Linked DNA regions of Homo sapiens. The protein of the gene in region 1 purifies or fractionates together with the protein of each later gene. This does not show direct contact. Each region holds a gene or a part of one and is shown in the gene's direction. Other genes may lie near its edges.

Region 1 (3,600 bases):
TCGTAGCTGTGAAAGTTAGACTCAGGCCTCCTTTCCACAGACCCAGACACGCAACTACCCCGGAAAGCACCCCCGCCCTGCACCCCCATCCTCCTCACCTCCCATAGGAGCTGCAGCACAGAGATTTCAACACAGGGGTTACAAAGCTGAGTCTCAGAGGTTCAGATAGCTTTCTAATGGCCTCGAGGCTCCGCGGGGAAAAAAAAAAGTATAGCAAAGAGTTGCCATCCAGTCCTGGGGCTGTCTAGCGCCTTTATGCGTAGTGGGTACGGGGTTGGGGAAAGAGTGACCAAGGGGAAGAGAGTGTAGGCTCAGCTCACGGGTCGCCCAACAGCCTCAGACAAGCCACTTGACCCCTGGACTCAGTTTGGGAACCTGTAGCAATGGGTTTGACCTCTTCTCCTGGCTGCGAGTATCACCACTAGGGAGAGGCAAAGGCTTGCAGAAACCCCAACTCCCGCTCAGGCAGCGCGCTGCCCCGGGCTCCGGTAGGGTGGGGACTGGTCGCGAAGGCTAGAGAAGGCAATGGCAGGGGAGGTCAGTCCCTGCCGCGGGCCGGCTGCAGAGCGGACGTTCCGCCCTGCTCCCGGCCCCCTCTTCGCCCGCCGGGTTCGCCGTGTCGAATAACTGCTGTCCGGAGCTTTCGTGACGCGGAGCTTCAACTGCTGCGATCCGGAAGAAGCGAAAAGGAGTCCCCCCCGCCCCGCACCCTGAGCGCCCGGGCGTGCAAACGTGGGTGGCGGAGAGCGGCTGCCCTCCCCTCCCCTGTCCCCCCTCCCCTCGCGGCGCTCCCGTGTGTGCGGGTGTGTGAGTGCGTGTGTCTCCCTCGCTCACTCTCGCACACGTTCCGGCACTAGTGCAGGCGGCGAGCCGGCGGCTCTCCGCTCGCTCGCTCCGGCAGCTGCGTTCCCGCCTCGCCCCGCCGCCGCCGCCGCCGCCGCCGCCGCCGCCTCTGCAGTCGCAGCCGGGCATGGTGAGTGAGTGAGGTCCAGCCGCCGCGCGCTCTCCCGGCTCGCCGCCGGACCCCAGCCTCAACCGGCTCCGTCCCAGGGAGCCAGCCTGCGGCGGGAGCGCGCTGCGGGGCCGGGCGGCTGGGGGACCCGGGCGGCCGAGCTGCGCCTGGAGGGGCGGCCCGTGCGCTCTCGGTTCCAGGCGCGCAGGGCCGCGGGACCCCGTCTTGGGAGCGGGCTCTACGCCCCTCCCGGCTCCGAGTCTCTCTCCTCGAGGGCTGCGCGCACCCTCCCCGCCCGCCTGCCCGCGGTTCTCCTCCTGCTCCCGGAGCGCCAGTCGCCCCACCCCGTGACCGGCTCCCCGTCTTGTCCCGCAGGACCCGCCCGGACGGGACCACGCCGCCGCCGCCGCCGCCGCCGCCCGGAGCCGCGCTTCGGGTCCTGCCTGAGCCGAGCCGCGCGCGGGGCCGCAGTCACCGCCGGCGGGGGATGGGGCTGCCCAGGAGGCGCGCCGAGCCCGCAGGGGGAGCGCGGAGCCGGCGCGCAGCCTGAGAGCCCGAGCAGCCCGCGCCGGGCCGGTCCGTGCGCACCGCGCGCCGCCGCCGCCACTGCCGCCCGCGCCTCGATGGCGCCATCGCCCCGGAGCCGCTGACCGCTCAGCGCCTCCAGCCCGGCCCGCGCGGCGGGTCCTCCGAGCCCGGCCCGCCGGGGGAGCGGCCTGCCGCGGAAGCCTCCCCGCGCCCTCCCGCCCGGCCCCGCCATGGCGCTGCGGCGCCTCCTGCTGCTGCTGCTGCTCTCGCTGGAGTCCCTGGACCTGCTGCCCAGCGTCCACGGAGCCCGCGGCCGCGCCGCCAACCGGACCCTGAGTGCAGGCGGCGCTGCCGTCGGGGGCCGGAGGGCCGGGGGCGCCCTGGCACGGGGCGGCCGCGAGCTGAACGGCACCGCCCGGGCGCCCGGAATCCCGGAGGCGGGAAGCCGGCGGGGGCAGCCCGCGGCGGCTGTGGCGGCGGCGGCCAGCGCGGCCGTCACCTACGAGACGTGCTGGGGCTACTACGACGTGAGCGGCCAGTACGACAAGGAGTTCGAGTGTAACAACAGCGAGAGCGGCTACCTGTACTGCTGCGGTACCTGCTACTACCGCTTCTGCTGCAAGAAGCGCCACGAGAAGCTGGACCAGCGCCAGTGCACCAACTACCAGAGCCCGGTGTGGGTACAGACGCCCAGCACCAAGGTGGTGTCGCCGGGGCCCGAGAACAAGTACGACCCGGAGAAGGACAAGACCAACTTCACCGTCTACATCACCTGCGGGGTGATCGCCTTCGTCATCGTGGCCGGCGTCTTCGCCAAGGTCTCCTACGACAAGGCCCACCGCCCTCCACGGGAGATGAACATCCACAGGTGAGAGCGCCGCGTGCCGCGCGCCCCGGTCTCCCCGCGGCCTCACCCTCTCAGCTTGCTTCCCCTGTCCTCTTCACTCTCGGCATCATCACACCTCCCCAGGCCCTCTAGTCATTTCCACCATCGCTCCTTTTGCATGCAATAAATCAGGGTCTTCTTGTGCCCCCTCCTCCATTTCTTCAGAACCGGGAATGCATGCTTTGGTGGTAGGGGGATTTACAAGGCAGAGTAAGAATTGGTTGAGTGCATGAAGTTCCAAGTGTAAGAATGTTACAAATTCTGTAATCGTGGATGAGGATCCAGGGTTCTGCTTTCCTGGCATGAGGGCACTTTGGTGTAGGTTCTTAATGGCATTTAGTTTTTTGAGTCAAATCAGAGTGTCATCTTCAATATAGGAAACTGACCAATGTTGGAACCTTACTGAAAGCGGTACCAAGTGGCTTAGGGTCAACTGAGATGTTCTCGTACATTAGGAATTGGGGTTTTATAGAAAGGATGCCTCCTGCCGGAAGTAGGGATAAAGATTTCTCCATTCCATGTTGACCAAGCACAGATGGTGTCTCCTCATTGCATCCTGCGGAGTGGGATGTTTATCTTTCCTGCTGAGACTAGAGGACTCGTTCTTTGAAACCCTGTAGGCAGAACTCTGAGTTAACAGTACTCGCCTGTGTTAAACCTGGTGGGGCATCTTTCACTGCTTACGTTCGAAAGACAGTGGGAGCTGCCTCCTACCAAAACTTACGCCAAGAGCTCAAACTATGGCAGTCCCTGGTTGCACGCTGAATGCTGCCCCGACGCACCATCTTGCCCCCCAGTGAGCCCTTGGGGAAGTCAAAGCCAAGGGGATGACAGAAACCCAGCCTCCCCTTAGAACTCTAGGAATGACACACCCAGAGGATGCAGAGTTAGCTCGGCTTCCTGTCCCCTCATGTTGATGGATGGCTGGACATGGTGCAAGAGTCCTCTCAGGGAACAAACCCTGCCCCGGGAGATGCCTCCATTTCTGTTGCATGGTGTGGGCACTGCCCTAGTCACCATGAGCACCCCCCAGACCACTGCTTGTCAGTCAGTCCTGCAGGCCCCCACACTGACCCATTCACCTTGAGCTCTTCTCTGCGTCCTGCTTGTTATTCTTACCACCTGAAAACCGCCTTCCTCGCTGCTGTGCACATTAATCACCCCTGCCTTGCTGAAGAGAGAGAAAGGCAGATAGAAATTTCTAGGCATGTTAAAAGAGCTGATTTTTTTTTTC
Region 2 (3,727 bases), on another chromosome or scaffold:
TGATCTTCCCACCTCGGCCTCCCAAACTGTTGAGATTACAGGCGTGAGCCACGGCAGCCAGCCAACTTCAAATCTATTAAATGCCCTAGTAAGCCATATAGTAATAATATTGAGAATTTCTGATCAAGCTCGAGTCTGCTCAGTATCCCTATGAACTTGACTGAGGTAGTTGTTGAATATATTTTCATACATCAAATGTGGCTTTGTTCTGTTTTCTTTAGCTGTTGTTTCTAGTGTATTTTCAGTGGTCCAGGTTTTCCTAACAAGATTTTTTTTTTTTTTTTGTGGCAGGGTCTCACTCTATTGCCCAGACTGGAGTGCAGTGGCCCTATCTTGACTCACTGCAACCTCTGCCTCCCAGGTTTAAGTGATTCTCCTGCATCAGCCTCCCAACTAGCTGGAAATATAGGCATGCACCACCACGCCCAGCTAATTTTTTTGTATTTTTGGTAGAGACGGGGTTTCATCATGTTGATCAGGCTGCTCTTGAACTCCTGACCTCAGGTGATCCACCTGCCTCAGCCTCCCGGCATGAGCCACCACGCCCGGCCCTTAATAACACTTTTATAACAAAAGGCTTCTCATTCATAGACATCATCTCTTAAAAAAAAGAAAAAGAAAAAAGAATAAGAAAAATAAAATATCTGGTTCCATTTGGCATAAACTGGCTCTGTGGTTGTACCTATTTTGTCAAAACAATAACCACCTGAGTACAAATACCTCTGTGCCTGCTCAGCGTGAGAGCTGTGAATGTTAGCCATTTCCCTGTCTCCTTCCAGGCAGGTATGTCCACGTGACTTGTTTGGCTAACGAAACGCAAGTGGAGTGACCTGTGTCACTTCCAGGTAAAACTGTGTTAAAAGCCAGTGAAAGATTTGTCACAATCACTTTCCCTCTGCCGCAGTGACCATCCAGATAGAGGCAGTGGTCTCAGCCTGGGTCATAGAGGACAGTGAGCGGAGCCCCCTGCCTTCCTGTGTTAGACGTATTCGATGAGCTAGAAATAAACTTTTGTTGTGGTCAGACCCTGAGATTCGGGGATTTGAGTGTTACTGTGGCCTAGCCTGGTCAAGCCTGCGTAATGAATATTATCAGATAAGCTGCATGTATGCGGGGATTTCTGGCTCTGGTTTACCAGATACCTTGGGAGCTGTGGGGAGGGCCCTGAAAGAGGCTTGTCCTATGAATCATGCTCCTTTTACTGTGTGGGAGATGGCAGGTGTGCTGTTCCCATCATGCTCCAGTCTGCTTTGTGATTTTAATCAAGAGTGGCAAAAATGGCGTTTAGATGTTTAATTGCATTCTGTAAGGGCAGACCATGTTAAAGTGTAAAATAGGTAAAGGCTGTATGCCTGGAAGGGATAAGAATCAAGGCTTTCATTTTTACTTTGAAAAACACAATTTATATATTTTTAACAATTTTCAGTGCACTTCCAAGTTTTCCAATACAGAGGAATGTTCGTGGGTGAGTTGTGAAAAGATGATTCTTCCCAAATGCAGTTATCAGTGGATACATTTCAGAAATTATTTTGTCACTGAAGGACATTTGAAATGAATCATCCGTACTTACCATTGACTAATACGTTTTTTTTCAGGCAGCTTCAAAGAGTATTTTAAATATGATTTCCTGGCTATCTGATTTCGGATCTAAGAGTATCAGACTTAGGTTTTGCTGTTAATGTCCTAGGGGCAGTGTGTTCACTCTTTTATTCTGAGTTAAACAGAAGGCAAGCCGGGAGCATTGTGCTTTGGACAGAGCTGTGCTGCATTCTTAGGGGACACTGGCTATAAATCCAGTCTCCCTAGAGGTTAACAATCAAAGTTCTCCCCTTATTATAGTCAGGCGAGTGATATGATGATGATAAATTGCTTGGACGTGACTGGCCCAAGCACTAGTGTGATGAATTATGTTGTTCGGGGCATGACCGAAGATCTTCTATTGTCAGCTGGCAATGCTAAGTATTGGCAGTATTCATAAATAGCCTTTTGCCAATGGTGGTCTCTGCTTTACATATTAAATTCTCTGTTTTCACAGGTTGTGGTTCTTAGTCATCTGTGTCCTCCACTGAATTCACTTACATAATCAGCCTTTTTTTTTTTCCTGTTCCCTACTTATTAAACGGGTGGGATGTGCTCACTTGTGTATGGTAAACACTGAGTTCTTTCTTCACAGAAACTGTTAAAAGAGTAATTATTAGTTCTTTTTACTAAATCCAGAGTAATAGCAACTTATCTTGCAGTGGCTTAATTGGGTAATTATTTGGTGTGTGAAGAGCACTTTGAAGAGAATATTGGTAAATATTGTTAATTTCGTGCTCTTTTATGTAACTGAAAGCCCATTGCGACCACAAAATCCTTGGTGTTACTGTGTACCCACAAAATTTCTTTCCTGATGTGGCTTACTATTTTCCAAATTATTTGTTTGTTGATTTTTAAAAACATTTTTTAAATTTTCATAAATTCTCAAAGTTATCTCATGTTTATGCCTTGACAATTCGACATGTCTCATCTCCTACATTCTTGCATATCTGAAAGGTTAGATGTTATCAGTCTTGCTCTCTAACAGTTTGGAGGACAGATAAAGCCCGACCATGTAATTGAGAAATTGAAATAAAGATTTATTTGGTCAGAGCCCATGCCCTGAGCTGTCATCTGATTGCCATCAGAATTTGTTTAAAAGTGTTAGGTTGGCCATGCACGGTGGCTCATGCTGTAATCCCGGCACTTTGGGAGGCCAAGGCGGGAGGATTGCTTGAGCTCAGGAGTTCAAGACCAGCCTGGGCAACAGTGAGACTCCCATCTCTATTAAATAAGTAAATAAGAATTAGGTTGACTTGCATGTGCCTGGCCAGCTCTTTTGACAGATTTTCTTCTCACTTTATAAATTCAGAGCCTGCAGGCCAGGCGTGGTGTCTCATGCCTGTAATCCTAGCACTTTGGGAGACCAAGGCAGGCGGACCACTTGAGGTCAAGAGTTCGATACCAGCCTGGCCAACATGGCGAAACCCCATCTCTACTAAAAATACAAAAATTAGCCAGGCATACGTCTGTAAGTCCAGCTACTCAGGAGGTTGAGGCAGGAGAATCGCCTGAACCCGGGAGGCGAAGGTTGCAGTGAGCCAAGATTGTGCCACTGCATACCAGCCTGGGTGACAGAGTGATACTCTGTCTCAAAAACAATAAAAATAAGATGAAATAAAATGTAGAGCCCCCAGGTGTAATTAAGGGCCATTTCTGTAGCTTAGATTAGATGACCTTGATTACTCACTATGTTTGTCTTCCTAGGGCTGCCATCACAAAATACCACAAACTGGGTGGCTTTAACAACAGACATTTATTTTCTCACAGCTCTGGCAGCTGGAAGTCCCAGATCAAGGTGTCAGCAGTGTTGGCCTCTTCTGAGGTCTCTCTCTTTGGCTTGTGGATGGCCGTCTTCCCTTTTATGCATGTCTGGGTATTGATCTTTTATAGGGACACCAGTCCTATTGGATTGAGACCTACCCTAACAACCCCCTTTTAACTTAATTACTTCTGTAAAGACTATCTGCAAATACAACCACATCCTAAGGTGCTGAGGGTTCGGGCTGCAACAGACAAATTTTGCAGGGAGATACAACTGAGCCCAAAATGCTCCACTGCAATAGTAATGGTCTGTTTGGAAGCTACTGTTTTTGGAGTTATTTTCTTTGATTGTTAAATTTGACCTTCCAAGTGATGACTACACATC
Region 3 (2,914 bases), on another chromosome or scaffold:
CCCCATGTCTAATTTTGGGATTTCAGTGAGGCCTTTTGATCTGTCCAGGAGAACAGAAGGGAAAAAAAGATACTTGAAAGAAACTGAAGGAAATTTAAACAAAGAAACACTTGAAAGAAACTGGAAAGAAAAATAATTTTTTTATGTGAACAAATTTTGCAAGAAGAAAAAAGCATAAAAGACACTAACGGCAAATCTATGTTTAAATGGAAAATCGTCTAACTGGAGAAGGGCGGTATCCACCCCACATTCGGATCCCAGGGTCCTGAGGCCTCGCATTGAGCTGGGGGTTCCCTCTGAGCCCCAGTGTGTGTGGAATCAGTGCACTCTTGACTGGGCCTGTAGTAAGGTGCTCATGGGGTTTGTCTTCTCACCCACCATCAGAGGACTTTTAAAATCATAGGCGTAGAGAGTTAGGCTATCTGCTGAATTACTGCCACTCTTCTTGGTGGGGGCTCCTAGCTGTGGCTGGGGGCTCCAGGCGCCCCTGTGATTACCTCCTACTGCCACCATGGCGCTCATTCAGATTCCCCACTCTCACTAACATTGCTTCCTTTTTTGACCAGCAGGAAACAGCAGGTCTGGCCAGATTCTCACTTGCCCATCAATCTCGTTCTTGGATGATTTCCCTCATTGTGATGCTTCTGGGGCACGTTGACCATATGCACCTCTAGAACCTAACCAGGGCTTCCTTCTACCAGCTGTGGGCGGGCTTGGTCTGGTAACCTTGTCTGCTCTGCCATTCCACTGCTCCTCCATCCACTCGCCAATCCCAAGAGTCTGGCCTCCCTCCAGCCCTGGGCAGACTGACCAGCAAGGTGGACCTTTACATTCAAGCACAGCTGGCTTTTATGACATAAAGAACTAAAGGCCGAAAGAATCTCTTGCTGCTGCAAAGAACAGATTTTATATTTCTTCCTCTAATCTTGGCAAATGACCTTTACCTTTTGGAAAGATTTCATATTGCTTCCTCCTCCCTGGATAGGACCTAATGTAGCACAGCGGGACTCAAAGAGGAGGACATTTTCTCTTGCCAGTGCACTGGGCAGTGGGGCTGTCCTTCAACTGCTGCTGCCAAAATTGGTTTTCTAAAATTCTTCCAGTAGAGACTAAAAGAAGATTCAATTCCTGTAACCCAAGACTGAGTCTTAGGGCTCCAGTCTCCACCTGCTTGGTTTCCTATCCTTTGCTGCCTGCCTGGGGTGGCCTGGAAGCCTGTTCAGAAAGGCACAATGTGGAGCCTGGGGTGTCTCCCCCACCCCAGGACCGTCAGGTTTACCAGTGTGTGCAATCGCCATGTATTCAGAGGGAAGTACCTTTGTTACCTACAACTTAGGAGCTAGGCCTCTGCTACAAGCACTTGAAAATGATATTTTTATTTTTAACGTCTCAACAATCTGATATCGGATGTCGTTTAACCTGGGCTCGTGGTAGGGCTCCAGCATTTCTCCCTCCTTCCTGGTTTGCCTGTAGGGGTAGACTCGGAAGGTGGGTGGGGTGTGCATTTCCTGTTAGGAGTGTATCAGTGCTTGTCTTATTATAAGCCCCTTTCTTTTGTGAATTTGAAGTAGCACCAACAAGCCTGGATTGTGAAGGTATTAAGAATCGGTCTGTGGGCTACTGAGTGGGTCCTTAGGATACTGGCCCAGATTTTGCCACTGGGTATGGCAGATCATTTTCTACCATGGCCTGCTGCTCTTGTAGTGGACTTCCTGAGTCCAATCCCACCTCCTGGTGTAGAATTTACACTGCTGCACCTGAGGTCGATGTTTCAAAGTAAGATCAAGCCAGTGTTTTGATCTGGGCTCTGAGCACAAGTCAGGAAACACCAACATATTCACACTCTCCCAGTAGGTTCCTCAGTCCGATGGTGAATGGCTATTCGTAAATGGCTGGTCTGGCTCTTTGGTGTTGGAGCCTTTCCAATAGCCCCATGAAAAGAAGCATCACCCAAGGATATTGTAAAAAGGATGTAACAAGGAGATAGGGTAGACATTGTACTCAGTGGGCCTTGGGGCCTAGCCCAGCTCTGAGCAGAGGACTGTGGCATTCACTGTCCTTGAGTGTTTCACCTTCTTGGATAACACACGGGCCTTCTCTTCTGGATTTCATCAGAGATTACAGCCAGATGGGGGCTGAAGACCATCCTCTTGACCACAGAGGTGTGACTGTGGGAATTCCTCCCAATTTATGGTTTCCCAGAAAATCTTAGTTCCTTTTATTTATAGAATGCATGTCTTTTGTGTTAAGAAACCAAAGAGAAATAAAGAGAACACTCCTAATAGCTCTTGTCCTTTCTTGGTTTATTTCTCAGATATTAGAAGTACATGTTTGTTTTTTAATTGTGATTCACTGAAAAAAATATATTGGACAAAATGGGAATATTTCTGTGAATATAAGGGAAAAGCCAGATGTACAGCAAAAGTAGTCTTTGGAGAGATTTATTTTATGAGAGTCACTTCTGGTGAAAAATATGCAAAGACTTCATTTGCACTTTGGGACTGCATATTGGTGCCTGTCCTGATCGCCCCTACTCTCGGATTTCCCCTTTTCTCCATTCACTGCCCTAAAACTCCAGAGTTTCCCAGTGGAATGTGGCTGCCTGTTGACTGCCTGGAATCAGCATCTCCAGCTCCTTTTTTATGCTCTAGGCGAGAGGTGCTTTAACTTTGGTGCACATAAAAGTCACTGGAAAATGTTTAAACCACAGATCCGTTCCTAAGTCCCTCTCTAGAGACAGGTTCCCTAGGGCTGGGGTGCAGCTCAGCATTCTGGCGTGAGCAAGTTTCCTTGGTGATTTGCATGCTCTTCAGTGTGAGAACTATACTCCCATCTTCAGTTTCACTTCCCCAAATACAGCCGCATTCCAGATCTGCTCTTCCAAGATTACACTGTGGTTAGTGTGGTTTTGCCT

Evidence for each region.
Region 2: the proteins of SHISA6 (region 1) and PTER purify together in Homo sapiens (affinity purification with mass spectrometry; one large-scale study listed by BioGRID and IntAct). This does not show direct contact.
Region 3: the proteins of SHISA6 (region 1) and KLHL18 purify together in Homo sapiens (affinity purification with mass spectrometry; one large-scale study listed by BioGRID and IntAct). This does not show direct contact.

The regions. Positions count from the first base shown.
Region 1 is NC_000017.11:11,239,713-11,243,312, forward strand, and holds the start of SHISA6 (protein shisa-6 isoform 1 precursor), read left to right. Parts: upstream 1-1,500; 5' UTR 1,501-1,710; coding exon 1,711-2,348; intron 2,349-3,600. UniProt on the Homo sapiens protein: Involved in maintenance of high-frequency synaptic transmission at hippocampal CA3-CA1 synapses.
Region 2 is NC_000010.11:16,439,800-16,443,526, forward strand, and holds part of PTER (N-acetyltaurine hydrolase), read left to right. Parts: intron 1-3,727. UniProt on the Homo sapiens protein: N-acetyltaurine hydrolase that regulates feeding by catalyzing the hydrolysis of N-acetyltaurine into taurine and acetate. N-acetyltaurine has anorexigenic and anti-obesity effects that are dependent on GFRAL receptor and GDF15.
Region 3 is NC_000003.12:47,344,533-47,347,446, forward strand, and holds the end of KLHL18 (kelch-like protein 18), read left to right. Parts: 3' UTR 1-2,284; downstream 2,285-2,914. UniProt on the Homo sapiens protein: Substrate-specific adapter of a BCR (BTB-CUL3-RBX1) E3 ubiquitin-protein ligase complex required for mitotic progression and cytokinesis.